Homo sapiens: one gene and its partners. The protein of the gene in region 3 interacts with the protein of the main gene of each other region in a pairwise test. Each region holds a gene or a part of one and is shown on either strand. Other genes may lie near its edges. The genes, in order: CYTIP, cystathionine beta-synthase, CYTH1 and ITSN1.

Region 1 (7,609 bases), on a different chromosome or scaffold from region 3:
GAAACACTGATCTAGATAATCTATTTAAAGCCCCAATTGAATTTAGTGGCTTAATCCCTTGAATGATATTGCAATCTACCCATAGCTTCATGATTTGATTGAATTAAACTTGAATAAATCAGAAAATTGTTTCCTTGCACTTGTATTAAAAACATAGTAGATTTGATGTATTGCTAGCTATTATTTATATTAGGTTTAAAGTTTTTCTTTGTGTTGTTTTAAATATGCATGTCACAACTCTAAGCCAATATTTGGCTTATATCACACTAGGATTTCTAATATAGGGTCTTTATGACCTTTGTTTCTGTTATTTTCCTTTCCTGAGCTGCCTATTTTTCAGGGCTTGTCCTAGTTACAAATTTTTAGTTTATCCTTTTCTGAAGAAGGCTATTACTCTCTGGGGAGTAGTGTTCATAATTCCAGTGATCCACACTGAGTTGGATGAGGACATCTGTCTACCCAGCTCCATCACTCAAATAAGGTGATACATAGGACAGAGCAGTTTTCACAGTTAGTGGATCCTCATATATGAGAGTAACTTTACTAAATCAAATTTACCTTATATAAATTCAAAGGCACAATATTCAAATATTGTCTATATGACTTTAACACATCTCCTACATCATTCCAGAGACCCAAATAAAAACTTCCCTTCCAAATGAAGGCAAAAGGCCAAAATAAAACAAATTAGCAAACCAAACCACAACAAAACAAAATCCTGTGATGTTCCAGGAAGCCAGATAAAATCTTCTTGTGCAAATAAAGGCAAATAGCAAAAATAAAACAAACAAAAAACTCAACAGCTATCTTAAGATCAGAAAGGCATAGAGGAAGTCTCATTTTTTAAGCAACCAGTTACTCTTCTTCTGTGTCTTACAATAATCCAGAAATTTCACACATTGGCTCTGATGATGGTTTTCAAACACATCTTGATATTCGATGGTAAGGAATTCACATGTATTGTGTAGCCTTTAGACTTCTTCAGGGTGACAAGGGCATCCTTGCTGCACATAGAGGCACTTAGTAATGAATAGGGCTATTCATATAGAATTCATGTTATATCCTTTTTTAGCTTTTCCTTTTGAAGGCTTGTTACTTAAAGCAAAATTCAGTAGATATAGCTTACTTTATACCATGTGCTATTCATGGGCTATTCTGTCTATTTTTTCCTGCAAATTTTTGTTTTAGATATGTGAACACTAAAGTTTAGAGAGTGTATTAGTCAGTTCAAGCCACCATAACCAATACCATAGCATAACAAATACCATAGACTGGGTGGCTTTAAACAATAGAAATTTATTTTCTCACAGTTTTAGATGCTGGGAAGTCCAAGATTGAGGTGCTGGCAGATTCAGTTCCTGGTGAGGGATCTCTTCCTGGCTTGCAGGAGGCTGCCTTCTTGCTGTGTCCTCATATGGTGGAGAGAGAGTCCTCTGCCACCTCTTCCTATGAGGGCACTAATCTTATCAGATCTGAGCCTTACCCTTATGACTTCGTTTAACCTTAAATGATTCATTAACCTCCTTATAGGCCCTATCTCTAAATACAGACACATTGAAGCTCAGGGCTTTAATGTATGAATTTTGGGGGGATACAACTCAGTCCATAGTCTTTAAAGCAGCAGAGCTAGGACTTGAATCTAAGTAGTGTGACACTGGAACCCTGTTGTCAACCCTCTTACAGCTGCCTAAGATTTTCATGGATGATTGTAAGGTTGGCTCAGTTTGTCTTGCAAACCTTTCCACCTTTCTTTCTCTGTTCCGTGCTTTAGGTATATTCCTCTCACCTGACTCTACCAAATCTCCATGTTGTAGGCCCTCAGTGTTCATCTCATTTGTACTAAAGATTAATTCCTTCCAAGGGTATTTGCATATTTATGAACAAAATGTTCCAAATAAGAGCTTTGCCCCACATAACAAATATTAGCTTTTAGAGCATAAAGGCAGATGAGACGTATTTTTAAGAGACTCTGTCCTCATCTCTCAGATCACCCCTTAGTGAAAATTGTAGCACTTTGGAATATGGGCTTGTAGTACATACATTTCCTACCAAATTAATTTTTTTCCTTATTAATACCACAGAACACTATTGTTTAATCATTTTGTTTAATATCTACCTTTCTCTTTTTATTAACATTTATTGAACAATTTTTGTATGTAGGACATAAAGTATACATTTAAAGATAAAAGATGTTCCTTGCTTTCAAGGAAATTGGACATTAGCAGAGAAACAGATTTGTATACAATTAACTATTGCCCTAACTAGAATATATTAAGTCTCAAAAGAAGAATCTAAAAAAATGATATGACATTTCAGAGAATGAAATCAGATAATATAAAATAATTTTTATTTTATTTTATTTTTTTGTGAACAGTGAGATACTCCTGAAATCTTTTGAGTACCTAGGTAGCTTGATCCAATTCATTTCCAGAATCACCTCTCTAAAATAAATGGGAGGCTGAAGGGGAAGAGAGTCTGGTCTATTATAATTTTCCTAAGGTAAATCCTAAAAGAAAAGAGATGTTCTAAACAGTAGAACACCTTTGTAAGTCAAGGATTTGTTGTTTGGAAGTCACATTCCCCTTAAAAGATTACTGTTTCTCCACCCTTTATCACAAGGGACACTTTTGATCATGATATTAGTGACTGGCATGACACAGGCACTGACAGAACAGGGAAATGACCAATAAAAATAGACTAGGTCAAAAATTTGTAATTAACAGGTGTGACCACATTGATATGGGCTGGCTGGATGTCAGAGGTACTTTTGACCCTTGTTTTGTATCCAGGTATCCCATTATTTGAAAAATTTTACTTAACACATTTCATGAGTTAAGTAATAAGTATTTTCCAGTTTCTTAATTGAATGATGATCTATGATTTACATCAGCTTAAGGTCAGTATTACAATGAATTGGTACAATTTTAGTAGTCATTTATAAAAATGGGTGAGTCAGTTGGCCTGAGTGGGTGGCCTTATATTAAGCAAATGTATAATTTCCATTTGGCATTTTAAAATATTAAGAATAAAAATTAAAAATATTTACCTAACTTTATCAGATTCCTAGGGTACAGTGGACTGCTGTCATCCATTAATAGTGATGATTTAATTTATGTGCCTCTTAGCCTGAAAATGTTTTTAAAATCAATCTCTCTCTCTGTCTTCCTAATACACACACACACACACACACACACACACACACACCCCACATATACCTGTATACATATCTGTACATATCTATAAATATAGATTTTACGTGAATATCTTTATAATTGATGTATTCTTTAGTTGCCAAGGTATTTACCACTCCCTTTTGCCTTACACATTTATGTTACTTACCTGGCTTCTGAAAACGTATGTGTTTTTAATTCCTGATTTAGACCGTTATATGTTTGTGGTGATATCACTTTGTCCATGTCAAAATTCAATTCCAGTATAATGAGTCATGCTGTGATAGAGTTTTTAAAATCTATAATTGGCTTCAACTTTTGAAGCACTATTAATTCAGATTTTACTATTTATATTTGGCAATTTCTACTTGAGTTGAATTCATCTTCACTTCCAGTACACACACATTTCATTTTAGTTCAAAGATTTGCTAACTCTTTCAAATGCTAGTATTGATCTTCAGAGATTTTAAAAAGCACATTTGACTTTTTGTGCCATATAAAACTTCTCTTTTTGACTTTTGTTTCGATTCTTCCTTTTACTTGCCTCCCCTACTCCTCCACTGAAACCAGTTCTCTCAAAACTACCTGCCCCCAACCTCAGCCAAAGGAAAAAAAAAAAAAGCATCTGTGATCTTGAGTACTTGGTGATGGTGCCCTTGACCCATATGCACATGCAGGGACCAACAGGCAATGTTCTTGGTGCCACCTTGGTTTGCCTGTTACCTTCCTGCCCACTCCTTTCCTCCCCTGGGACCACTTGCTGATGCTGCCGCAAAGTCTCGTCTAAGAAATGGCAACATTGTGCCCTAAATGTGCTGGCTTTCCCTTCCCATTGTACTTTGTAAAGATCATGGGTAATTTTTGTAAGGACAAAGTAGTAAAAGGACAACCAGAAGAATGCTGAATGGTTACAACCTCAGTGGCAGATATAATGTCTTTTTGATGAACATTAATGATCTAGGGTATACTTCAGGGAAAGTACAGTATTACAAGGACTTCGAGAGAGAACATTATGACCGGCACCTGTAATTCTTGCCCATATTCACAAGAACTGAATGTCCTCGTGTGCTGACTTCTGCATTGCATTGCTAATGTTAAGTAAGAGAATGGATGGGAAACAAATGGTAGCACTTGGGGACATTTTTCTTTCTTCTCTAAAGAAAAAAATGGCAAATGGTGGTGTGAATGCAACTTGCCACAGAACATAAAAGCGTAAGAATTCTGGCTGTTTGAGGTGAAAAAATAAGTTGATTTTTCTTTAAATTGTAAAAATTAGCTCCAGGTTCTCTCAGGAGCTTAAAGAAAAAAAGCTTTGAGAAATGGGAGTGAATAGCAAGATAGGGTTTGTGTAACAAGTTCCTCAAACCACAGAGGTCACATGGGCTCTTTCTGCTTTGCTACTTTTGATTACTTGTCACAGTTGTACTTTTAGCTTCCCCCATCCTGCAAGGCCACTCAACCATGTGCTAGCTGGAGTGATCTTTATTCACAATGTCTTTACAAAGGCTCCTGCAACACAGCAGCAATGGCAATTTGGCGGACTTCTGCGCTGGGCCAGCGTATAGCTCTTACTCCACACTCACCGGCAGCCTTACGATGGACGATAATAGAAGGATTCAAATGCTAGCAGACACGGTGGCTACTCTGCCTCGGGGACGAAAGCAGGTATGATTGCTATTTTGTACCCTTTAGAGTGTTCACATTCTCTTGAGGGCAGAGTGATATGTTTGTCTGACTTCATACTAATGGTGATATTTTAGAGGCTTTGGAATTACTGGCTGATTATTATGGGTGAAGGAGGTGAGATGCTCAGGGAGCTAGGTGAACCAGTCCAAAGATTTGAGACCACAATCAAACTTTTTTTTCAAGGCAAAAATTAAGATTGTTTTTCTTATTTGAAGAAGTGCTCAGGTAAAATAAACATCATTAAGCATAAAAAACTTGAAGATGGTTTATATAGATACAACCAGTATGAGAATTAATTCTCTTTTCCCCATTGTGTCTCCACTGATTCTTTCCCTTCCATCCTTACTTGCAGTCCTTGATGGTCATTTCAGTTCATAATCAAATAAGAAATACTTTTTCTGAGGACAAATTTTGTTGACTAATTATCTTCAGCTCTGGGTTGCTGGCACATACCTCAGGCTATTGGAAAGTAAGATTTTTTTTTTTTGGATAGATGAGTGCCAGATTGAATATCAGCTCACCACTTAGTGTCTGTGGGATCTTGAGCAAGCCACTTGCCTCTCTAAGCTTCAGTTTTGTTTTTTCTAAAATGGAGTTAATAATAGAACCACCCTTATTGGGTTCTTATGTTGGTTAAATAAGGAACTGTGCAGTGCCTAACACAGTGACTGGCATTCAGTGTGTGTTTATTAAATGCTAGATTATGCCATTTTAATATTTTTATTGCAAAGTTTGTCTCTAGGGATGAAAACTCATTTGGAAAAATCTATGTCTAACTGAATTTATTTTGATTTTTTCGTTCTTCAATTTCTAACATGTAAAAATTTTTTTTTAACCATAATACCTCTTCAGGATTTTTTTTAAACAACTTGCTCTAAATCCCCAGGTACATATTTGAATTTCGATGTAGCATTTCTACAGAAAATATTTAGAATTGCCCTAGAGCAAGAATTTTTGCGCTTAAGTCTTGCATGTACAATCATGTGCTTCTCGTAAGCCTTCTAAATTCAGGATTAGAGAGGTATGGCATAGTGGGAGAGACATGATCTTTTTTCAGTGATGTATAATAGCTGATTCCTTGGTATTTTTCGGAGTGAAGATAAGGGCACAATTTTCCATGATTTGGATTATTGATTGTTCTCAATCTAAAGTGCTTTTATGATACAAAGTTTAATGTAATGATGAACATTTTATCAATCTACAACCTGTCTGAAGATAAAGCAACATGAGAAATGCTGACATCTTTTTTCAGTTTTCAGATATAAAGCAGTCAGATTTTCTTTATATTTGCCATGACACTATCACACCAACTATGGTTCACTTGATTAGGCTATGATTTTTTTTTTTTTTTTTGCTGGAGACTGTGGGTACTTTTTCAATCAGGGTGGGAACTTTCCACCCTCTATGTCCTCCATACCTGCAACCTTACTCATTTGATCTACTCTCTAGCCCATGCAATTCAATGCAACAGATGGTTTCTGAGCACCTACAAGGAGACAGACATCATGCTAAGTGTAGGAGGTAAAAAGACGAGAAGGGAATGTTTCCTACCCATATACTGTTTACAATTCAGTAAGCAGAAAGAATGGGTTTTCTGCAAAGTAAAACAACATGAATACTCTCATCGAAGTGAAACATCTGTAAATATAGCCTTGGAAATAGATATTCGAGATATTGAAGGGTATTCCAGATATTGAAGGGTATTCCAGAGCAAGGGAGAAATTGAAGCTGAGGCATAGATCCTGGTGCCTGGAGGACTTTTTTGTGTAACAACACAATATTAAGTGTGTCAGGAGAACCTGGTTAGTGTGTAGGAGGTGAGAGGAGATCTCAGCGCTGGGCTGCTTTACAGAACACTTGGACAACTTCCCCTGAAAAAGCCGGCACGAGGGCCACTGAACGTGTTTGAGAAGTAGAGGATTTCAGGAACCTTATTGTAGAAATGTAGTGGATTAGTGAGTAGAGACTAGTGGTGAGGGAGGAACTTTTGCAGTAGTTGGAGAAAGAGGAAATGGGGGAACAGAAAGGAGACTGAAAGGCTTTAATATGAAAGGGACTGAAGACGGAGGAGTCACATCTGGTTTTAAGCCAGAGTGAAGATAGCGTGAACTGAAAGAAGGCAATCAGTAGGAGAGGCTGATTATCAGAGGAGGATAAAGAGAGGGATTTTGGCATATGAAATACACGTGTGTGTGTGTGTGTGTGTGTGTGTGTGTGTGTGTATGTGCATATATACATGTACACATATGCACACAGGCACACACACATCCCCATACTAATTAATTTATGCAGATGTTCTCATCTTTTCTAGGTCTTCTCATTCCCCTTCTCTCAAATTCTTTCATGTGGTAGACTTTCCATATTCAAACAGCTTTTTCTTACTGTTGTGAGAATTGCTTTAAAAAATAGCAAAACAAAACTTCTTGTACATGATAGTTCTGATTCCGTACAATTATCATCAATGAGACTTGATGCAAGTTTATCCCAACATTTCACAATCTTCCAAATGGATGTTCATTTCCTTTAACTGGTTTTTAGAGAATAATCACCCATTTGGCACTGACTAAATTGCAGGCAACAAGATCCTTGTGAGGCAATCACATGAGCAGGTGTTTCTCTGCCTACTGTTATTTTCAACACTTTCAGGGCTGACGTCAACAGCTCATACTTCTTGTTGTTGTTGGCTTTGGTTTCTGCAAAGCTATATCTGGTTAGCTTGTAGTTTCAAATTATTAGTCTTCAGAATCAATTGG
Region 2 (7,022 bases), on a different chromosome or scaffold from region 3:
ACATAGAGGGGCGTTCGAGAGTCCCAGGTGCCTCATCGTGGAAGTGGAATCACACAGTATTTGTCCTTTTGTGTCTGGCTCATTTCGCTTGGCATAATGTCCTGAAGGTTCGTCCGTGTTGTAGCGTGTGCCAGAATTCATTTCTCTTAGGGCTGAGTAATATTCTAGTGTGTGTATGAGCCTACTGTGTGTGTTCATCCGTCTGCGGATACGTGGGCTGCCTCCACGTTTTGACTTGTGAATAGTGCAGCAGTGAGCATGGGTGTGCAAGCATCTGTTTTGTTGTTGTTGTTTTATTTTTTAAATAGAGATGGGGCTGGAGCCCAGGCTGGTCTTGACCTCGTGGACTCAAGTGGTCCTCCTGCCTCAGCCTCCCGAAGTGCTGGGATGAGAGGCGTGAGCCACCGCACCCGGCCCAAGCAACTGTCTGCTTCCATTTTTTTTGGTATATGCCTATAGGAGAGAAATGGCCAAGCGGCTGCCCACAGGGCTGGTGCCTGTGTTTTTGTGCAGTTCTTCCTGGGCTTCTCTGAGGGAGCAGAGCACGCCTCCCAGAGGGGGCCGGGTCAGCAGGGTTCGCTGGAACCCCACAGCATCCGAGCCTGAACCGACGCCTCTCTCCTTGCTTTGCCAGGTCCCAGCATGCCTTCTGAGACCCCCCAGGCAGAAGTGGGGCCCACAGGCTGCCCCCACCGCTCAGGGCCACACTCGGCGAAGGGGAGCCTGGAGAAGGGGTCCCCAGAGGATAAGGAAGCCAAGGAGCCCCTGTGGATCCGGCCCGATGCTCCGAGCAGGTGCACCTGGCAGCTGGGCCGGCCTGCCTCCGAGTCCCCACATCACCACACTGCCCCGTAAGTCCTGCTTTTGATCACAAGAGGGCTGATCCATAACCTGGAGGGCAGGAGTTTGTTACCTGGACACCACACAGCCAGGAGGACATGAGGTGTAACCCCCTGTAGTCACTCTGGATTGAGGAGCTGGGGGTGGGGCCATGCCGTGTAGATGAGGCTCTGAGAGGCCAAGGCCTCCTTACGCTGCAGCCCAGCGCCTAGGCCAGTGCCTGGCAAGACAGTGGATGCTCAGCAAGTAGTTCCAGAATAAATAAATAAATGTGCCCAGGTCACATGCTTTGCCCGGTCTGTGGCTGCGTGTGCACATTCACTGGAGGTGAGGGACCAGGATCCTGCCTGCGCTCTCTTATTTATTTATTTTTTATTTTTTTGAGACACGAGCTGGAGTGCAGTGGTGCAATCATGGCTTACTGCAGCCTCAATCTCCCCCAGTTAAGGGATCCTCCCACCTCAGCCTCCCAAGTAGCTGGGACTATGGGTGCCCACCATCACACCCAGCTGATTTTTGTATTTTTAGGAGATGGGGTTTCACCCAGGCTGGTCTTGAATGCCTAGGTTCAAGTGATCCGCCTGCCTTGGCCTCCCACAAGTGTTGGGATTACAGGTGTGAGCCACCGCGCCCGGCCCAGCCTGCACTTTTCCGTTAACTCTAGGTCATGAAGACTTCCCGTAGGCATTACATATTTTTCCATAAGGGCTGTTTTTCTGGTGGCACAGACTGTTCGGTGAAGAAGCCATCATTTTGTAAGCCCTCTACGGGGTAGATAGATGTTTGCAGTTACCTCATTTTACATAACTGCAATAGAAGATACGACACATTCATTTAGCCAACAAGTCTTTCCTCAGCGCCATGTGCATTTCGTGCCCTGCTCAAGGCGCAGAAGATCTATCAGTGGAAAAGACAAATCAACAAAAATCCCTACCCCAGCATGAAACTGAAATCAAGCTCACTAAGCCTTAGGATTATCTTTATTTCCTTAGTGTAATCTTGGAGGAGAACAAATAGATCAAAGAATGTGCTTCTTAGATGTTTGATTCCTTTTTTTTTTTTTTTTTTTTTTGAGACAGAGTCTCGCTGTCACCCAGGCTGGAGTGCAGTGGCGCGATCTCAGCTCACTGCAACTTCTGCCTCCCGGGAAGCGATTCTCCTACCTCAGCCTCCCTAGTAGCTGGGATTACAGGCATGTGCCAGCACGCCCGGTGGATTTTTATGCTTTTAATAGAGATGGGGTTTCACCATGTTGTCCAGGCTGGTCTTGAACTCCTGACCTCAGTTGATCCACTCGCCTCGGCCTCCCAAAGTGCTGGGATTATGATTCCTATTTTGTGTCCACCACTACCAGCGTTTATGGTTGTTGATTTACAGTTCAGAATGGGTGGGGGTGGCTGGGTGTACTCTCAGTGCAGCAATAGAAAGAAAGAAGTGACAGTGGACAAACCCAGAAGGTCTGAGTGTCAAACATACTCAGTGCTGGGAGCTCAGGAGGCCAAGCAGATGTGTGGGCAGCCAGGAGGATGGGCTCTTGCTGCCAAGACAAACCCAAGAGAGCAGTGGGTGAGAGGCCCGGTGAGGTCGGGAGTGGCTGCTGGAGGGTGGAGTGGGCAGGGAAGACAGGCCCGATTCCTGAGGGCTCCGTGAGCTCCTAACTCTAGGGCATGAGAAGGAGACGATGCCCTCCAGGTTGTAAATGGCGTTGCACCTGCACCTCACATACTGGCCTCATTCATCCTCCGAAGACACCCCCATCCTGAGACGCAGAGCCGACGCCGCTTGTCTCCAGTCGGAGGGCCCCTGAGAATAGTGGCGTTGCGGGGAGGTGCTGCAGAGGTGGGTCAGGAGTTGGAGGTTCATTCTAGGACAGTGGCGTGTCCTCCCAGGAGACTCTTGGGCTGTGGAAGTGGGAGTCCTTGAGATAAGGGGCTCCAGGGCTATCCCTGCAAGTCACATCCTTTTTCTTGCTAAGCGCTCTGGGCCTGGCCCTGATCACCTCTGCAAACTTCTCAGGTAACTTCACAGCCACCGAGGCCCAGTGCTGAGTCAGCACACCTGCTGCAGGGAGGCGGGACTCTTCCCGCCTGGCTGGCCAGATGCCCGAACTGAATTAATGAACTAATCCCCGGCGCTGTCACCCTGGGGCTTGGCTTTCCACCTGGCCCTGGCTCTCTACACCTGCCAAGCCTGGTTCCCTTCTGCCGAGAACTGCTTCTGAGGGAACCTCCCTGGCCCCTGTACAGTTTGGGGACCTGGCAGGACTGCCTTCTGCTCCCCGGGAAGGGTGCGATTGGATTCCAGCTGCTCTTGTTGGCGCCTGTTTTGGCCTTCAGGGTAGCTCTCCCTGCAAATGTGGCACTCCCTCCATGGCACAGGACCTCTGGGAGCTGGGTTCACCCCAGGTCTAAGGGTCGCCTCCTGGGGGGCAGGACCCAAGGACCCTGGCTGTTCAGCAGGTGACTGTGCTGAAGAGGGGGCCCAGGGTTAGCCACGGGGTGTCATCGGAGCTGCAAGGCCCAGGGAGGGGTTGCGGGTCTGGAGACCGCTGTAAGCCATGCGTGTTCCCAGATGAGTATGTGGTGAGCTTGGTGCAGATAGATAGGGGGTGTCATCAGCATCTCCCTGGGGGAGGATGGCAGGGGCATGAGGGCCATTTAGGAAACCACCTGGACCAGGGTTTGAGGGTTTACACAGCCAGATGCTGCAGGGCAGGGCATCACGAGCCTGGCCGACAGCGCCTCTGCCGGGGCTCTGAGTCTGCCACGTGCCTGACATTTTCTGTGCAGGGCTAGACATCCCGCCTGCGCTTTGCAGCCATTGTCCCTGGTCTAAGGAGTCTCTGCCCTGACACTTTTTTGCTTCCTATGGTCACATGCTGAGAGATGAAAGGAAATGTCATCTCCAGTAAAGCCTTTCTGAAAAGGTGGACCTAAACCTTTGTTTTGGAGTCAGTATTTGCTTATTTTAACTTTTTTATTTGGAAATAATTTACTACTCACAATAAGTGGCAAAAATAATAGATCCTTTGTACCCTTCTCCCAGCTTCCCACTAACAACATCTGCCACGACTGTAGGTTCATTTTCAAACCTGGGAAGCTGGCATTGGTGCAAATAAACCACAGGCATGATTTGCTTTTTATAGATTTGTATGTCTAAGCATGTGTGTGTATGTGTGTTTCAGGCGTGTGTGTGGGATGTGTGTTAGGTGTATCTGTGTACAGATTTGTGTAACCACCACCCAGATAAAGCCAGTTCTTTTTTTTTTTTTTTTTTTTTTTCCAGTTCTTCGAGTGTTGATTTGTGTAAGACAATGTCTGCCAGGGCTGGTACTATTTTTTTTTTTTTTTCCTGAATAATTGTGGACTCCTCTGTTTCAGGGCAAAATCTCCAAAAATCTTGCCAGATATTCTGAAGAAAATCGGGGACACCCCTATGGTCAGAATCAACAAGATTGGGAAGAAGTTCGGCCTGAAGTGTGAGCTCTGTGAGTGCCCTGGCTTTGGAGAGGGGCTTCCTCCATCTACACTGGGCTCCGTGGGCCTGGGGGGTCCTGGGGGGTCCTGGGATGGATCCCTTAGGCAAGGCCCTGGGATCAGAAAACTCGCTGGTTAATGAGTGGCCAAGAACATATCAGCTTAAGTTTGGGAAAAACACACAACAGGGCATTGTGTCAGAGGGTGACCAAAGTGACTCCCCAGCAGATGGACAAGGGAACGAACAGGTGACCTTTGAACTGAGGCCGGAGTGGAAGCAGCGAGGGTGTGAAGGGCCGGGTGAGGGTCAAAGGCAGAAGCAAGCAGGTGGGGAGGGTTAGCGTCATGCCTGCTAAGGAGCAGTGGACGGGTCCTAGCACGTGCTGTGAGCCACCCGCTGTCCAGGGAGCGGTTACCTCTGTCTTGCCAGCTTCGTGGGGACAGATAGTTCAGCTCATCATTTATGAGACAGAGAATGGGAATTTGGAGGGTCTGTGGCTGGCCTCGTCCTGGGTGCGCAGGGGGTCACCTGAGGTGTGGTCTGAGGCCTCCGGGGAAGGGCATTTCTTTGCAGGACGCAGTTTCCAGGCTCAAGAGCGTGGAGGGAATTCCTAAGGGTCGCTCTTCACCAAGAGCGCAGAGCCCTGGTAGACCTCAGCATCGTCACAGAGAAAGCTGTGGGTGCAGAGGCCTTGGGGACAAGGCGGGGACGGAATTTCGTATTTCAGATGACCAAGGTCAAGTGAGTTCGGAGGGAGGCAGGAAGGGTGCCGCGGAGAACCCCGCGACAGGGCCAGATGGAGGGGGTGGAGTTCGAGTGGGAAGGAGAGGGAACCAGTAACATGGCTTGGGACTTTTTCATCCTGAGATGCTCTAATGTCCCAGCCGGGGGACCTGTGAGAGCTGGGGCAGGCGCTGGGGGAAGGAAGTCAGGGGTCGGTGCGTTGGGAACCGATCGCCGATTCACAGGAGGGGCCTCGTGGGAGCCTGGCCCTCCTCTGCCCCCCTCTAGGGAAGGAGATCTCGGAGCTGCAGCAGAGCAGCCCCCTTCACAGAGACCCCCAAGGCAGCAGGGCCGGCTCTGTGCTCATTTGTCAGACAATAGGGACCCTTAACTCGTACGCAGCACGCGTGGCTGGCTCACTGTGCTCCGTACAGGATGACGTCTAAACTTGGCGGTTGCCCTTGAAGTAGGTTTTGGAATGCCCGTTTTACAGACAGACACACCGAGGGTCAGGTTGGTCACGTGGCTTGCCGGAGGCCACCAGCTCTGATTTCTGCTTCGGAGCTGGCCCCCAGGCGCTAGTGAGAATGATCTAACTGAGGGTTTCACAGTATGGGACCCAGAGGGGTCCGAGAATGCAGGCCTGTAGAGGGCCAGACCCCGAGAGTCCTCCCCACCACACACAGCGCCTCGTCCTGGTTCTAGGGGCAACACCTGTCTGGTGGTTGCTTTCAGAAATTTTGAGGTGCTGCAGGCTGGTCCCAGGTCCCTCAAATCACATTTCATGCAGCCCATTCTCTCGCTCTTAAAAACTAAATATTTTTAAGAGCTGGAGAGGGAGAGAGGACTTGCAGTAAGGAAGGAAGTGCAAGTGAAGGCCTTGGCCTTGTGCGGGAACTGCGCAGGGAGCCCTTCCCCGGGCAGGTGACGCCCCACAGGGGAAGGAGGACAATGGGAGGCTGTAGGGAGAGTATGCGAGTCCCCATCCGATGGGGAAGCCAGTGCTGTGGCTTCAGGACATCAAGCTGCTTTGGCAGGGGCCGCTGGGTATGGCTGGGCATAGGGGCGTAGGGGACCCAAATCCAGGCGCCTGCCCGCCACAAGCCCAGCTCGTGGGTGGGGGGACGGGGTTTTCTGCGGCGCCCCCCAGTGAGGGCTGCTTATGCCTCTCTGGTTCCCACAGAGTTGCTCAGCGCCCTGCAGGACCGGTAGGATGGGCTGCAGGGGGAGAAGCTCTGATAGGCTAGTGCCCAGGTGCAGGTGTAGGGGAGGTGAGTGGAGAGGTGGCAATTTTTCAGAACCCACAGACCCCCAAGCCCGTCCCCCACCCTGGGGTGTATCAGGTAATGGGGGGGTGAGCAGGAATCAATGGGGGGGTGGTCAGGGGGTCCCCTCTGTGATTCATCTCTGCCTCCCAGTGGCCAAGTGTGAGTTCTTCAACGCGGGCGGGAGCGTGAAGGACCGCATCAGCCTGCGGATGATTGAGGATGCTGAGCGCGACGGGACGCTGAAGCCCGGGGACACGATTATCGAGCCGACATCCGGGAACACCGGTGGGTGCCAGGCCCAGAGGGGGTGGCCGGGGCTGGCTGTCCCCTACCCATGCCGAGCCTGCCGGGACCCGGGGGGGATGGATGAGCTGCAGCCGCATGTGCTGGCCCGCCTGGCCGCCTGCTCCCTGGCATCTTGCACCCGCTGCCGGCCTGTGTCCCAACCTAGCTTCCTTTGACCAGCATTCGGGGCCAGTGCCGATGCTCTCGGGGCGATGGCACCTGGCAGTGCCTGGCACACAAGACGAGCACCCGGAGTCTGCTCTTCCTGTGCCTGTGTACCCGGCTGGGCCTGGAGGAACCAGATCTCCTGTCCTGCGCCGCTGCCTCCTCCTCCTTGACGTGTACCTTTTATTTCTGCCTCTGGCAGCCTCTCTCCCCCTGCACTTGAAGGCAGAAGCAGCCATGTTGGGCAATTTTGGAATCCCACAG
Region 3 (7,595 bases):
AACTCTCAAACTATGGTCTGCTCTCACCTCACAACAATCTTCACAGAAGACTGCTCTGCCCAGAGGCGTGGGGGTTTATCCCCACACACCAAGCAGCAGACACTACCTGGGGGTCCTCTCATCCAGTCCAACTTGGACTCTTATCTGGAGTGAGGTCAGATCTCACAGGCTGAGGGCTCAGTCCCCAAGACTGCATTTGTGACAGCAGTCACAAGCCTGGGCCTCTGGAAGTTCTGAGCGACCACCTTAAACTTGGGATTTCTATGACCCCCGCTCTTTGGGTTTGATTAATTTGTTGGAGCCACTCACAGAACTTAGGGAAACACTTACATTTAGTATTTTGTTTGTTTTTAATTTTTTTGAGACGAAGTCTCGCTCTTGTCCCCCAGTGTGATGGCGCGATCTCAGCTCACTGCAACCTCCACCTCCCGGGTTCAAGCGATTCTCCTGCCTCAGCCCCCCGAGTAGCTGGGATTACAGGCACCCGCCACCAAGCCCGGCTAATTTTGGTATTTTTAGTAGAGACGGGGTTTCACTATGTTGGCCAGGCTGGTCTCGAACTCCTGACCTCAGGTGATACAACAGCCTCCCAAAGTGCTGGGATTATAGGCATGAGCCACCACGCCTGGCCATTTAGTGGTTTATTATAAAGGATATTGCAAAGGATAAAGATGAAGAGATGGGGAAGGGCCCTTGCACAGAGCTTCCAAGCCCTCCCTAGGCATCACCCTCCAGGAACCTCCACATGTTCAGCTATCCTAGCCCAGTCTTTTTTTTTTTTTTTTTTTAATGGAAATTTTTATGGAAGCTTCCTTCCATAGGGCACAGGGCAGGACCCTCTCTGGGGAGGGTCTTAAGACCCACAATCAGAAAGGTGGGCAAGATTAAAGTCCTGCCTTGGGGCAGGTGAAAGAACAAGAGAAGGCCAGAGAGATTGTTTCCTGAGGCCTAAACCAACATTATAACAAAAGACTGTAACAAGAGCTAAGGGAGGTATGTGCCAGGAACAGTGGAAAATACCAGAGGGTGGCCAGGAGCAGGCTCATGCCTGTAATCCTAGCACTTTGGGAGACTAAGGTGGGTGGATCACTTGAGCCCAGGATTTCACAACCAGCCTGGACAACATGGAAAGACCCTGTCTCTAAAATAAATAAATAAATAAAATATTAGCTGGGTGTGGTGGCGTGCAACTGTAGTCCCAGCTACTTGGGAGGCTGAAGTGGGAAGATCGATGGAGTCTGGGAGGTGGAGTCTGCAGTGAGCCATGAGCCACTGCACTCCAGCCTGGCCAACAGAGTGAGACCCTGTCTCAAAAACAAAACCAAACCAAAAACTGTCAAATACCGCAGGGAGCTACCAACTTAAAAAAATTAGTTGTCAAGTGGATCAACCACTAAGGACTTAGAAACCACAGCGAAACTTGCAGAGAGCCCACACCCAGTTTAAAGGTTCTGTGAAGAATTAGTGGATGTGGGGGAAGAGGTCTGGGTTAGAATCCACAGCTGGAGTGGAGTCCTGTGGTTCCTGTCTCCCTGCCGCCGGCTCCTTCTCATTACGCTCCAAGGGCTGGGGGCACAAATACAAGATACGAGAGTGAAACTGACTTAACTCCTGCTTGCAAGTAGGCTGCATTTGGATGTCTATTAGCCTCGGCTTCCAAATGTCATGCAAAGATAACAGCTAAAGGACCTCTCTGGCTGGGCGCAGTGGCTCACGCCTGTAATCCCAGTGCTTTGAGAGGCAGAGGTGGGCGGATCACCTGAGGTCAGGATGTCAAGACCAGCCTGGCCAACATGGCGAAACCCTGTCTCTACTAAAAACACAAAAATTAGCTGGGCTTGGTGGCACATGGTGGTAATCCCAGCTACGTGGAGGCTGCAGTGAGCCGAGATGTGCAACTGCACTCCAGCCTGGATGACACAGTAAGACCCTATCTCAAAAAAAAAAAAAAAAATCTCTGATCATGAATGTGATCTAATGGAGTAGCTTCTGTGTTTCTTTGACAGTCATCCATGGTCAGGGATAGCCCTACCCAGTGGACACATGCATGCATTCATTTGCAACCAGAACAAACACTGTCTCTGTATTATGTGTGATAGACTACAATTTTTTAAAAATTCTATTTTCTTTTCATCTAATAAGTATTTGTTTCATAACCATTAAGAGTCATGACCCGCTGTTTGAAAAACACTGTTCTTTTTTTTTTTTTTGGAAACAGGGTCTCACTCTGTCCCCCAGGCTGGAGCACAGTGGTGCAATCATAGCTTACTGAAGCCTCAACTTCCCAGGCCCAGAGGATCCCTCCCACTTCAGCTTCCAGAGTGGCTAGGACTACAGGCGTGTGCCGCTATGCTCGACAATTTTTAATTTTTTGTAGAGACAGGGTCTCTCTATGTTACTCGCGCTGGTCTTGAACTCCTGCCCTGAAGCAGTTTTCCTAGCTTGGCCTCCCAAAGTACTGGGGTTATAGGCATGAACCACTTCACCCAGCTGAAAAACACCAGTCTAATGGAACAATATAAGGGAACAGAATTTGTAAACAGTCATGTTCTCTGCTAATCTGTGATTAGCAGTAATACCAGTATCCCTCCCTCTCCAAATCTATTCAGTTGGTGAGTTCAGCTAAGAGGTCTAGAGTGCTGATAGTAAGAATTAACATGCCATCTGAATCGCTTTTCTTCTGGAGTTCTGGTCTTTGAGCAAGAGCTGAGGTGGTCTGGGACTTGCATACTGATAAGGGAAGAAAGCCAGCTCGAAGATACCTTGAACCTTCTGGTGAGTCTGGGGTTAGAAGTGAAGTAGGGAGTGAAACAGAGGATGGCAAATACTGGGGGAGAGGCTCAGTGCTCCATTAGCCCATGTGACAGATGGTTTGAGAAGATTTGCCAGGTCAATGTGGGGTCAATTCTAAAAGTGTCCTAAGTCTAGGCCAAGAGGAACAAAATGCAGCTGGGTCTCTGACCTCACACGCCGAAGCCCAAGGACACGTTAGGGCCAAAATGTGACTCTCTAAGGTCACCTGTAAAACTGGACAATCTGGTAAAGTCAGTGAAGGTTAAGATCATGAATCCAGCCAGGCGTGGTGGCTCACGCCTGTAATTCCAGTACTTTGGGAGGCCAAGGAAGGAGACCAAAGAGAAAGGATCACTTGAGCCTAGGAGTTCGAGACCAGCCTGGGCAACCTAGCAACCTCCGTCTCTACAAAAAATACAAAAATTAACCAGGTATGGTGGCCGGTGCCTGCAGTCTCAGCTACTCAGGAGGCTGAGGTGGGAGAACTGCTTGAGCCTGGGAAGCAGAGGTTGCAGGGAGTCATGATGGTGCCACCGTACTCTAGCCTGAGCAACACAGCGAGTGAGACTCTGTCTCAAAATGAATAAATAAATAAAAGAAAAAGAAAAATAGTAAAACTCAGGACAGGTGGGCCCACAAGGAAAGAGTTCTGTGGCTTTTACTCCCGTTTTTTGGTTGGTCCAAAAAATTCCCAGCAGTCCAGGGATCTCTGTGGAGTTCTCAGTGAGTGTTCTGTGTAGGGTGCAGGAGCCACAAGTGACTGCAGGGGGAAAGGGGGGTTCTGGTGCTGGCATTCTGCAGCAGTGGGATTGTCCTCTGTCATAAAGAAAGAGAAGGCCGAGCGCGGTGGCTCATACCTGTAATCCCAGCACTTTGGGAGGCCGAGGCAGGCGGATTATTTGAGGTCAGGAGTTCGAGACCAGCCTGGCCAACATGGCGAAACCCCGTCTCTACTAAAAATACAATTAGTCGGGCCTGGTGGCACATGCCTGTAATCACAGCTACTCAGGAGGCTGAGGCAGGACAATCGCTTGAACCCGGGAGGCGGAGGTTTCAGTGAGCCGAGATCGGGCCACTGCACTCCAGCCTGGGCAACAAGAGCGAAACTCGTCTCCAATAAATAAATAAAATCCAAAACGCTGGGACTTGAAGTGCCCTCCTTTCAATCTTGACCCAGGTAAAACTCAGGACAAATAAAAAGAAGTAGAAGCAGTAAACTTAGGACATACAGCATGTAAAGGTTCTGAACGCAGGAGTAAATGACTTCAAATAGCTTTTGTGGCCTTTCGCCAAGGACCGGGCCCTCCCTGGCAAGCTGGGGCCGGGTCTGACCTTCCAGGTTGGCGTCAGCAAGGACCACCCTGCCCTTCAGTGGCCGGACACGACCTTGGGCTTTCGTGCAGTAGCCTGGCTGCAGGCCAGGTCGAGTCCGCCACCCCGGGGACTTGCACCGCCCTTCAGAAACCGAAACCTGCTCGGCCCCAGGAGGCGGACCGGGAGAAGGGGGGGGGGTGTGTGTGTCTCGGGACGGGGGCGTGGTCTAGAGGCGGGGGCAGGGGAGGAGCCTCGGGTGGACGCGCGTGCGCAGGCCGGAGCCTCGGGAGGAGGCCGGGTACCCGGGGTGCGGCGCGCGCGGGAGGAAGGCGGGGCCTCGGGCGAGGGGCGGGGCCTCGGGCCGGGGGCAGGGGGCGGGCGCAGGCGCAGGCGCGGGCGGGCGGGGCGCGGGGCGCGGGGCGCCGGGGGCGGGGCTCCGAGCCGGGCTGAGGCGAGCGGGGGCGCGGGTGGCGCGGCGGGACGCGAGCGGCGAGCCGGAGCGCGGAGCCCGGCTCCCGCACCATGGAGGAGGACGACAGCTACGGTCAGTGCGCCCCGGCGGCGGACGCTTCCCCCTCGCTGTCCCCCAGTCCCCTCCGGGCCCGGCCGTCCGGCAGCGCTTGCGGCGGCTGGCGTTTCCCGGGGACACTGGTGCGGGACGCGGAGCCCGGGGCGACCGGCGGGCGAGCGGTGCGCGGGGCCCTCGCGGGGCGGGGGTCGCAGGGGGTTTTGAGGGATGAGGGTCGCCGGGGCCGGGGTCGCTGGCGGCGCTGAGGGATGTGGGTGGCTGGGGCGGGGGTCACAGGCCGGGCTCGCGGTCTCGCGGGGCCAGGGGTCGCCGCGAGCTCTGAGGAATGAGGGTCGTTGGGGTCGCGGGGCAGGATCTCAGGGGCTCTGAGGGATGAGAGTCGTTGGGGTCGCTGGGGTCCCCGGGGCAGGGGTCGCAGTCCGGGTCCCGGGGGGCCGAGGGGTGGAGGTCGCTGGCCCTGCCGCCCCTCTGCGGGGCTCGGGGCGGACGCGCGGATGGCCGGGCCCGCGTTCCCCGCAGTTTCCGGCCGCTCTCGGCGTCAGCGAGTTGTGCCCGGTCCACGTCTTTGTTCAGAAATGAGAACGGGGAGCGGCGCCGCCGGCGAGGCGCGGGCTCCGGGACGGCCCTGCCCGCGGGAGTCTGGGCCCGGTAGCCGCCGGTCCGGTGCGTCGCCGCCTGCCGAGACGCGGGTGTGGAGCCCGAGGGGCACCGCGGTGGGGACGCCGCTCCTCCCCTGACTGGGGACTTGGCAAGCGGAGCCGCTGTCCCGCTCCCTTCGCTCCCGCGCGTTGAGGCTGCTGGCCCAGGCCAGGGGTGCCTCCCTCCAAGAGTTTGAAATTGCAAGGGTTGCAAAAGGTTGTTTGACATGCTGTAGTTAATTTATTAAGTTTGTTCATGAGGAATTAAAAGGAAGAATGGCAAATAGAACAAGTGGTGAACTTTTGTGGTTTGGTAGCAAAGTACAAATAAAGCAGAACTCTGTGGCCAAATGGAACCCAATTCTAGTTTAATAACTAATGGGACATTTTTCTTTTTTTTTTTTTTTTAAGAGACGAGATCTCGCTCTGTCACCCAGGCTGGAGCACAGTGGCGTGATCGTAGCTCACGTCAGCCTCTTGAGTGGCTGGAACCATACGCACGCCACCATGCCCGGCTAATTTTTTATTTTATTTTATTTTATTATTTTATTTTATTTTATTTTATTTTTGAAACGGAGTCTCACTCTGTCGCCCAGGCTGTAGTGCAGTGGCGCCATCTCGGCTCACTGCAACCTCGGCCTCCTGGGTGAGCTGAGCGATTCTCCTGCCTCAGGCTCCTGAGTAGCTGGGACTACAGGCGCGTGCCACCACGCCTGTCTAATTGTTGTATTTTTAGTAGAGACAGGGTTTTGCCATGTTGGCCAGGCTGGTCTTGAACTTCTGACCTCAGGTGATCCACCCGCCTCGGCCTCCCAAAGTGCTGGGATTACAGGCATGAGCCACCGCGCCCAGCCCTAATTTTTTACTTTTTTAAAAGATGGGGTCTTGCCATGTTACCCAGGCTGGTCTTGAACTCCTAGACCCAAGCAGTCCTCCCACCTCTGCCTCGCACAGTGTTGGGATTACAGGCCTGAGCCACCACACCCAGCCCACTTGTTACCTTATAAGTAAACAAGTAAAAGCAGCTTGTGCATTTTTTTGTTGTTTGTTTTGTTGTGTTTTTGAGACAGGGTCTAGCTCTCTTGCGCAGGCTGGAGTGCAGGGGCGCTCTCATAGCTCACTGCACGCTCTGCTTCCTTGGCTCAAGCAATCCTCTCACCTCTCTTCTCAGCCCCTCCTGTAACCTGGACTACAGGCCTGGGCTACCACGCCCTGCTAATTATTTTTATTTCTTTTTGTAGAGAGGGAGGTCTCCCTATGTTGCCTAGGCTGGTGTGAACTCCAGTTCCTATCTTGGCCTCCCAAAGTGTTGGGATTACAGGCATGAGCCACTGCTCCCAGCCTCCTTTTGTGATTAAAAGAAAAATCACCCACTGGCTGGCCCCAAAAGATTGTTCAGCCCCTCCAGATTTCACTCCTGCCCACTGCTGAGAAGCCGACAGCAGTTTTGCCTGCTGCTCTTTTCTCTGCCTCCTCTTGCCATTTAATTTCCCTCAGATCCCAGTGTCCTGCCTACCAGGCTTTTGTGGCCTCTCTTGTGTTCTTGCCTGCTGCCGTGGGCAGGAAGCTATTGGTCTGGTTGCTTTTAATACAGTGACTGCTTTGCCACCAGGCATGACATGAACTTGTACTTGAAAGAGGTAAGTGGAAGCAGGGCGTGTTAGTTTCCTATACCTGTTATATTACCACAAGCCTGGTGGCTCAAAACAACATAACATTTGTTTTAGGGTTCTGCTGTCAGAAGTCCAAAATAGGTCTCACTGGGCTAAAGCCAAGGTGTCGGACAGGCTGGTTCTTTCTGGAGGCTCAGGGGAGAACCCATTTCCTTACCTTTTCCAGCTTCTAGAGGCCACCTGTGTTCCATGGTTCATAGTCCCCTTTCCATCTTCAAAGCCAGCAGGTAGCATCTTCTCATTTCTCTCGACCTCCTACCTCCCTCTTATTAAGATCCTTGTGATTATAGTGGGACCCACCTGGATAATCAAGGCTAAGGATTAGCAACCTTAATTCCATCTGTTACCTTAATTCCCCTTCTGCCATGTAAGGTAACCTATTCACAAGTTCTGGGGATTAGTACCCGGACTTCTTTAGGGGCTGTTATTCTGTCTGCCACACACGAAGATGAGAAAGTTTGTAAGTTTATTCTTCCCCTTTCTTTTTTTTTTTTTTTTTTTTTTTGAGATGGAGTTTCACTCTTGTTGCCCAGGCTGGAGTGCAATGGCGCAATCTCGGCTCACTGCAACCTCTGCCTCCCAGCTTCAAGCGATTCTCCTGCCTCAGCCTCCTGAGTAGCTGGGATTACAGGCATGCGCCACCACGCC
Region 4 (7,022 bases), on a different chromosome or scaffold from region 3:
AGAAAAAAAAGGATAGAACTGAGTAATCATTCTAAATTTATAATTGATGTGTTAAAGAAGGAAACTGAATAATGGGTTAGAAAAAATTGTTGACTGACTGTGATCTCCATAGGGATCAGGGCACAGCTTGTTCTTCAGTGTGAAAAGCCGAATGCTCACCTTTCACTCTGCTTTGAGAAATCTTGTTAGAATAGAGGACTCATCAGCACGGTTACAAGGCAAAGGGAAGGAGGGAGAGAGACAGAGACTCATGGTCCAGAAGAGAGGGGGTTAATTCCTAGGGCAAGCTCATGGGAAGAAGGGAAAGGATGGAGTAACAGGGAAGGAAAGGAGTCTGGATGGTGATGTAGAACTGCTAGATAAGGATCTTTTAGAAACAGTGTTTGGCGTGGAGGAGAAGATATAAACAGAGAGGTTAGGCAAAGGGGGTTTTCGTTGTGCTCATTAACAAGGACACAGAAGCTTAGGGAGTTCTGGGTTTGGGTTTGTACTACAAATTTCAAATACATTGGTGAGTTTTCCTTTGAAAAGAGTCCGTTGAAAATCTTGAGTTTTCATAGTTGCTGTGTTCCTTGTCTGAAGTAACGTTTGAAGATAAGAAGCGGGAGAACTTTGAACGTGGCAACCTGGAACTGGAGAAACGAAGGCAAGCTCTCCTGGAACAGCAGCGCAAGGAGCAGGAGCGCCTGGCCCAGCTGGAGCGGGCGGAGCAGGAGAGGAAGGAGCGTGAGCGCCAGGAGCAAGAGCGCAAAAGACAACTGGAACTGGAGAAGCAACTGGAAAAGCAGCGGGAGCTAGAACGGCAGAGAGAGGAGGAGAGGAGGAAAGAAATTGAGAGGCGAGAGGTAAGCAGGCGAGAGTGGAGCCACCCGGAGTTAGTGTGCGATCACCCCTTTTCAGAATTATCCAAGTGATCTATTCACGCCATCTTTGTCTTTTTACAATTCAGTAGTTTTAGTATATTCCCAAAGTTGTGCAACCATCGTCCCTAATTCCAGAACATTTTCATCACTCCAGCTCTTTACCCATTAAGCAGCTACTCCCCATTTCTTTCTCCCTCCAGCTCCTATCATTAATTTTACTTTCTATCTTTCTAGATTTACTTATTCAGGACATTTTTTATAAATGGAATCATCAATATATGGACTTTTGTTTCTGGCTTTCATTTAGCATAATGTTTTCAAGGTTCATCCACATTGTAAAATGAATCAGTCCTTTATTCCTGTTTATGGCTGAGTAATATTTCGTTATATGGGTATACCACATTTTTTAATTCATTCAGCAGTTGATGGTCATTGTGGCTATTATAAACAATGATGTTATGAACATTAATGTACAAGTTTTTGATGATACAATTTTGTAACAAACCACTGATACCAGTAAAGTGTTTTTCCAGACTGTTTTCTCTGTATACACCTATATAAAAATATAAAGGTTTATATGGCGGAGAGTGTAAGGGCTGTATAATTTTTTAAAAACCACTGTAATAGTATCATACCAATTACATTGTTCTGCAATCTTCTTTTTTTTTTTTTTTTTTGTTTGAGACAGAGTCTCGCTCTGTCACTTCCAGGCTGGAATGCAGTGGCATGATCTCAGCTCACTGCAACCTCTGCCTCCTGGGTTCAAGCGATTCTCCTGCCTCAGTCTCCTGAGTAGCTGGGATTACAGGTGCCCGCCACCACGCCCAGCTAATATTTTGTATTTTTAGTAGAGATGAGGTTTCACCATGTTGGTCAGGCTGATCTCGAGCTCCTGACCTCGGGTGATCCACCCGCCTCAGCCTCCCAAAGTGCTGGGATTACAGGCATGAGCCACCGCGCCTGGCCCATGCAACCTTCTTTTTAAACTCTTTTAAAAATATGTCTGGGACATCCTCCCTATATTCTATGGAAGGCTTCGTAAATTTAGCGCCATACCTGGAAAGGGGCTAAGCAAATCTTGTCTCTCTTTCCAATTTTAGTACATTACTGCAGAAGCAACACATGGTTCTTTCATGTGAATGAAAGATAAAAATGAGGAATTTTTCGATGTAAAAAAATAGCCTGAGTGCTGTGCCTCAAGCCTGTAATCCCAGCACTTTGGGAGGCTAAGGAGGGATGATCACTTGAGGCCAGTAGTTGGAGGCCACTGCATTCCAGCCTAGGTGACAGAGCAAGAACCTGTCTCAAAAAAAGAAAGAAACAAAACTTATAGCCATAACTCCTTTTTTTTTTTTTGAGACAGACTCTCGCTCTGTTGCCCAGGCTGGAGTGCAGTGGCACGATCTCAGTTCACTGCAGCCTTCACCTCCTGGGTTCAAGTGATTCACCTGCCTCAGCCTCCGGAGTAGCTGGGATTACAGGCGTGAGCCACCATGCCTGGCTGATTTTTGTATTTTTAGTAGAGACAGGGTTTCGCCATGTTGCCCAGGCTGGTCTCGAACTCCTGACCTCAGGTGATCCGCCTGCCTCGGCCTACCAAAGTGCTAGGATTACAAGCGTGAGCCACTGCGCCCGGCCCCGTAACTCCTTTTTGTTCAGACAGACACTAACAAAATTTTAATTTTCAGAATGAACAAAGATAGGCAAACTTTTCTTCAACGTACCAAAAAAATGATATTCTAGAGTATTTATTCAGAATTATTTAATAGACATTTACCATGTATCAGGTGTAGTTGGATGACCCATGAGTCAGAGGCAATTCCCATAGACTGTCAGATGCTCTGATATGTACTCTATCTAGCAGTCGTCAGAGCCAGTCGTTGGAGGGAGCAAAAGCTTTTGTGGTAAAAAGGAAATGAATGATTAGGAAGTGGGGAGTCGCAGACTTTTAAAACGAGTTAAGTAATAATTTCTCTTTTGGTGGAGTAAAATCAACTCTTGTTTGTTTTTGTTCAGGGGTGTTTTAGTTTGATTTTACTACATAAATTTTCCTTCTTGGCGTGTCAGTAAATAAGAAGGAGCATTTTTAGTTAGCACATCAAGCATTCTTGAAGGCATAAAGAATGGAATTCTAATGGGGAAATAATCCTGTCATCTTACGTAAATATAGTATTATGTAAATATAATACCCAGTTCTGTGTATTCCCTTTATTCCCATAGAAGGAATACTGTATTTTTATGTAATTTTTTGTTTTCTAATGTGATTTCTTGTAATGTTTAATATTTCATCCCTAAAAGGAAAGACTTCCTAGATGCCATTTTTGTGAAAAGACATTGTGTAGTGTAAGAACTGAAAAATTAGTAATTTGTCTCTGTAAATGTCACAGGCTGCAAAACGGGAACTTGAAAGGCAACGACAACTTGAGTGGGAACGGAATCGAAGGCAAGAACTACTAAATCAAAGAAACAAAGAACAAGAGGACATAGTTGTACTGAAAGCAAAGAAAAAGACTTTGGAATTTGAATTAGAAGCTCTAGTGAGTGAAGTTTGGTTATACTTTGAAAATATACTAAGATGGAACCATTAAAAACAGTAATAATTTTTATTATCTTTCATTTGTTCAAGAATGATAAAAAGCATCAACTAGAAGGGAAACTTCAAGATATCAGATGTCGATTGACCACCCAAAGGCAAGAAATTGAGAGCACAAACAAATCTAGAGAGTTGAGAATTGCCGAAATCACCCATCTACAGCAACAATTACAGGTGAGGAAATATGCCTCTTAAAAGCTATTATATTAAACTGGCATCCTTTTCTCTAATTCATTTCATTTACTTACTTATTCAGTAAACATTAAGCAACTGTCTTGTACTAGGCACTGGGAAGCAAAAATGAAGTAGACAGGGTCCTTGTGTGAAAAGTAGCCTGTCAAGGAGACAAACTCAGCAAATATTTACTGAGCACTGCTTCGGGCCAGGTGCTTTTGCAGTTTCTGAGGCTACAGCAGGGACAGACACTCTGTCTTCTGGGAGCTTACCCTCTGTTTGCAGGAGGAACAGAGACTAACAAAATAAAGTGTGTACTGTATTAGAAGATGAAAAGTGCTATGGAGAGTGAGTAGGGAAGGGAATAGAGAGTCCTAGGGATAGGAAATGTTGTGATTTTAACTAAGGTAGCCAAGACAGGTCTTTCTGGATGGTGACATTTGAGCAGAGACTTGAAATTAATGACAGGCTAAGCCATGTGGGTATCTGGCAGAGCAAGATCTAGGCAGGGAAATAGTGCCAAAGTCCTGAGGTCGTAGCAGGACTCTGAGATGCCAGTTACAGCAAGGAGACTACTGGGTAGAGCAGGTGGGAGCTGGATCACACAGAACCTGTAGTCCACCAACAGGACTTTGGCTTTACTGTGGTAATTACAATAAATAAGTACACTTAAGTATTTTAGGGGGTCATATGAGAGCTATATGTATACTAAATAGTTGGAGACATACAGAGCACTTTTAGTAGTTCTGTCTTCATTTTAAAGCCTATCCAAAGTTGTTATAATATCACCTGGTTTGGTATCAAGTGCTGAACTACAGGGGCATCAAATTCATGTAAATATTGCCTGTGGATGATCATATTTGCCTGTGATTCCTTTATGTTAGGCTTTTTCTCAGCATGATGTTTTTGAGATGTGTCCATGTTACTGAGTGAATGACTCTTTTGTTTCTTTTCATCACTGAGTAGTGTTTCCTTATGTGTCCATTCACCTACTGGTTGATATTCAGGTTCTTTCCAGTGTGGAACTTTTATGAATAAAACTGCAGTGAGCATTTATGTACAAGTCTTTATGTGGAAATGGTTTATTTCTCTTGGGTAAACTTTTAGGAATGGAACTACTGTGTCATGTAAGTGTATATTTAACCCCATAAGAAACTGTCAGGCTGGGCACAGTGGGTCACACCTGTAAACCCAATACTTTGAGAGGGCAAGGTAAGAGGATTGCTTGAGCTCAGGAGTTTGAGACCAGCCTGGGAAACATAGCAAGACCCCATCTCTAAAAAAAAAAAAAAAAAACTTAAAAATTAGCTGGCATGGGGGCGTTCACCTGTAGTACCTGCCTGAGGCAGGAAGACCACTTGAGCCCACGATATCGAGGCTGCAGTGAGCTATGATTGAGCCACTGACTGCCTGGGCCACAGAATGAGACCCTGTTCAAAAAAAAAAAAAAAAAGAGAGAGAAAAGAGAAAGGAAAGAAAGAGAACTGACAAACTGCAAAGAGTTTGTACCATTTTACATTCTGATCATTTAATTTGTATTTCCCTGAAGGCTAATGATGTTGGGAATCATCTTACATGTTTATTGGCGAGTATTTTTTACTGTGCATCTTCGTTGAAGTGTCTGAACAAATCTTTTGCCCATTTTTTATTGGGCTGTTTGTCTTACTATTTACTTGTAAAAGTTCTTTTTATATTCTTAACAAGTCCTTTGTCAGATACGTGTTTTGCAAATATTTTCTCCCAATCTGGCTTGGGTTTAATTTTTGTTAGTGGTATTTTTTAAAGGGCAGAAGTTTTAAATTTTGATGAAGTTCAGTTTACCGTTTTTTTTCTTTTGGTGTTCATGCTTTTTATGTTCTATCTGAGAAATCTTTGACTACCCCATGACTGCAAATATTTTATTTTCTTCTAGAAGTTTTTGGGGCTTAAAAAAATAATTTTTACAAGTTTTTATAAATTGAAAAAAACTTAAAATTTTAAGTTTCATAGTTGTATCTTATATGTTTAGGTCTATGAGCTATTTCAAGTTGATTTTTGCAGATAGTATAAGGTAAAGGTTGAGGTTTATATTTTTACATACTGATACACAGTTGTTATAGCACCATTTATTAAAAACACTGGCTTTTTTCCCATTGAGTTACCTTGGTAGCTTGTTGAAAATCAGTTGAACATATTTGTAATGGTCTATTCTGGACTCTATTCTGTTCTTTTGATCTGTCTGTCCTTTACCAGTACCTCACCCTGTTGATACCTAATTTTTGAAGTCAAGTGATACGAATTCTCTGTTATTGTTCTTTTTAGAATTGTTTTTGGTTATTCCAGGTCCTTAACATTTCCATGTACATTTTAGAATCAGCTTATCAGTTTTTACAAAAATGCTTGGAATTTTGTTGGAATTCCATTGAATTTATAAATCAATTTGGGAAGATTTGACATCTCAGCAATAGTAAATCTATGGCATAAATCTCTATTTTGGTAGTTATAAATTTCTCTCAGCAATGTTTTGTAGTTTGCAGTGTCCAAGTCTTGTAGATACTTTGTAAAGTTTATCCCTAAGTATTTTGTGGCTTTTGATGCTATTGTATATTGCATATTTTTATTTTAGTTTCCAGTTGTTTGGTGCCAGTATATGGAAATAGAATTTATTTTTGTATATTGACCTTATATCTGTGATTGCTTAACTAACTTCCTTTGTGTGTCTTACTTTGTTGACCAGAACCTCCCATACTATATTGGATAGAAGTGGGAAGAGCCTTGTTCCCTCTCGATGAAGGAAAGCTCTCTCACCATAGAGTATAGTGTTAACCAGGGTTCTTGTAAACACCTTTTATCAGGTTGATGGACTTCTCCTTTTGCTGAGGGTTTTTATGATGAATGGGTGTTGAAATAGATCATATGTTTTTTCCCCGCATCTATTGAGATAAGTATGTGTTTTTTCTTTCTTATTTTGTTAATATGATGAAGTACATGGTTGCCATTTGAATGTTAAATCAGCCTTCCATTCTTGGGATAAACCACTCTTGGTCATGGTATATTACCCTTTATTAAAATATTTCACTACATTCCATTTCCCATTATTTTATTAAGGATCTTTTTAAATCTGTTGAATTCAATTCAACAGAGATATTGGTTTTTAGTGTTCTTCTAATATTCTTGTCTAGTTTTGATATCAGGGTAATGCTGGCCTCAGAAAATGAGTTGGAAAATATTCCTTCCTCCTCTATTTTCTAAAAGTGTTTGTGTTGAAATAGCATTTCTTCTTTAAATTTTGGTGGCATTCACCAGTGAAGGCCTCTGGGCCTGGAGCTTTCTTGAAGACTTAATTATAAAATTCATTATGCAGATATAGGGCTATTCTGATTTTCTTCTTCTCCTTGAATCTGTTTTGATTA

What was found.
Region 1: the proteins of CYTH1 (region 3) and CYTIP interact in binary tests that used the Homo sapiens proteins (3 or more experiments, as listed by UniProt).
Region 2: the proteins of CYTH1 (region 3) and cystathionine beta-synthase interact in binary tests that used the Homo sapiens proteins (3 or more experiments, as listed by UniProt).
Region 4: the proteins of CYTH1 (region 3) and ITSN1 interact in a two-hybrid assay, tested with the Homo sapiens proteins (2 studies listed by BioGRID and IntAct).

What each region holds. Positions count from the first base shown.
Region 1 is NC_000002.12:157,441,073-157,448,681, reverse strand, and holds the start of CYTIP (cytohesin-interacting protein), read left to right. Parts: upstream 1-4,592; 5' UTR 4,593-4,661; coding exon 4,662-4,835; intron 4,836-7,590; exon of another isoform or gene 7,591-7,609. UniProt on the Homo sapiens protein: By its binding to cytohesin-1 (CYTH1), it modifies activation of ARFs by CYTH1 and its precise function may be to sequester CYTH1 in the cytoplasm.
Region 2 is NC_000021.9:6,457,492-6,464,513, reverse strand, and holds part of cystathionine beta-synthase, read left to right. Parts: intron 1-634; 5' UTR 635-642; coding exon 643-851; intron 852-4,220; coding exon 4,221-4,327; intron 4,328-4,481; exon of another isoform or gene 4,482-4,779; coding exon of another isoform or gene 4,780-5,058; intron 5,059-6,223; coding exon of another isoform or gene 6,224-6,311; intron 6,312-6,458; coding exon 6,459-6,593; intron 6,594-7,022. UniProt on the Homo sapiens protein: Hydro-lyase catalyzing the first step of the transsulfuration pathway, where the hydroxyl group of L-serine is displaced by L-homocysteine in a beta-replacement reaction to form L-cystathionine, the precursor of L-cysteine.
Region 3 is NC_000017.11:78,779,258-78,786,852, reverse strand, and holds the start of CYTH1 (cytohesin-1), read left to right. Parts: upstream 1-4,579; 5' UTR 4,580-4,629; coding exon 4,630-4,651; exon of another isoform or gene 4,652-4,797; intron 4,798-7,595. UniProt on the Homo sapiens protein: Promotes guanine-nucleotide exchange on ARF1, ARF5 and ARF6. Promotes the activation of ARF factors through replacement of GDP with GTP.
Region 4 is NC_000021.9:33,771,479-33,778,500, forward strand, and holds part of ITSN1 (intersectin-1), read left to right. Parts: intron 1-582; coding exon 583-845; intron 846-3,250; coding exon 3,251-3,400; intron 3,401-3,489; coding exon 3,490-3,630; intron 3,631-7,022. UniProt on the Homo sapiens protein: Adapter protein that provides a link between the endocytic membrane traffic and the actin assembly machinery. Acts as a guanine nucleotide exchange factor (GEF) for CDC42, and thereby stimulates actin nucleation mediated by WASL and the ARP2/3 complex.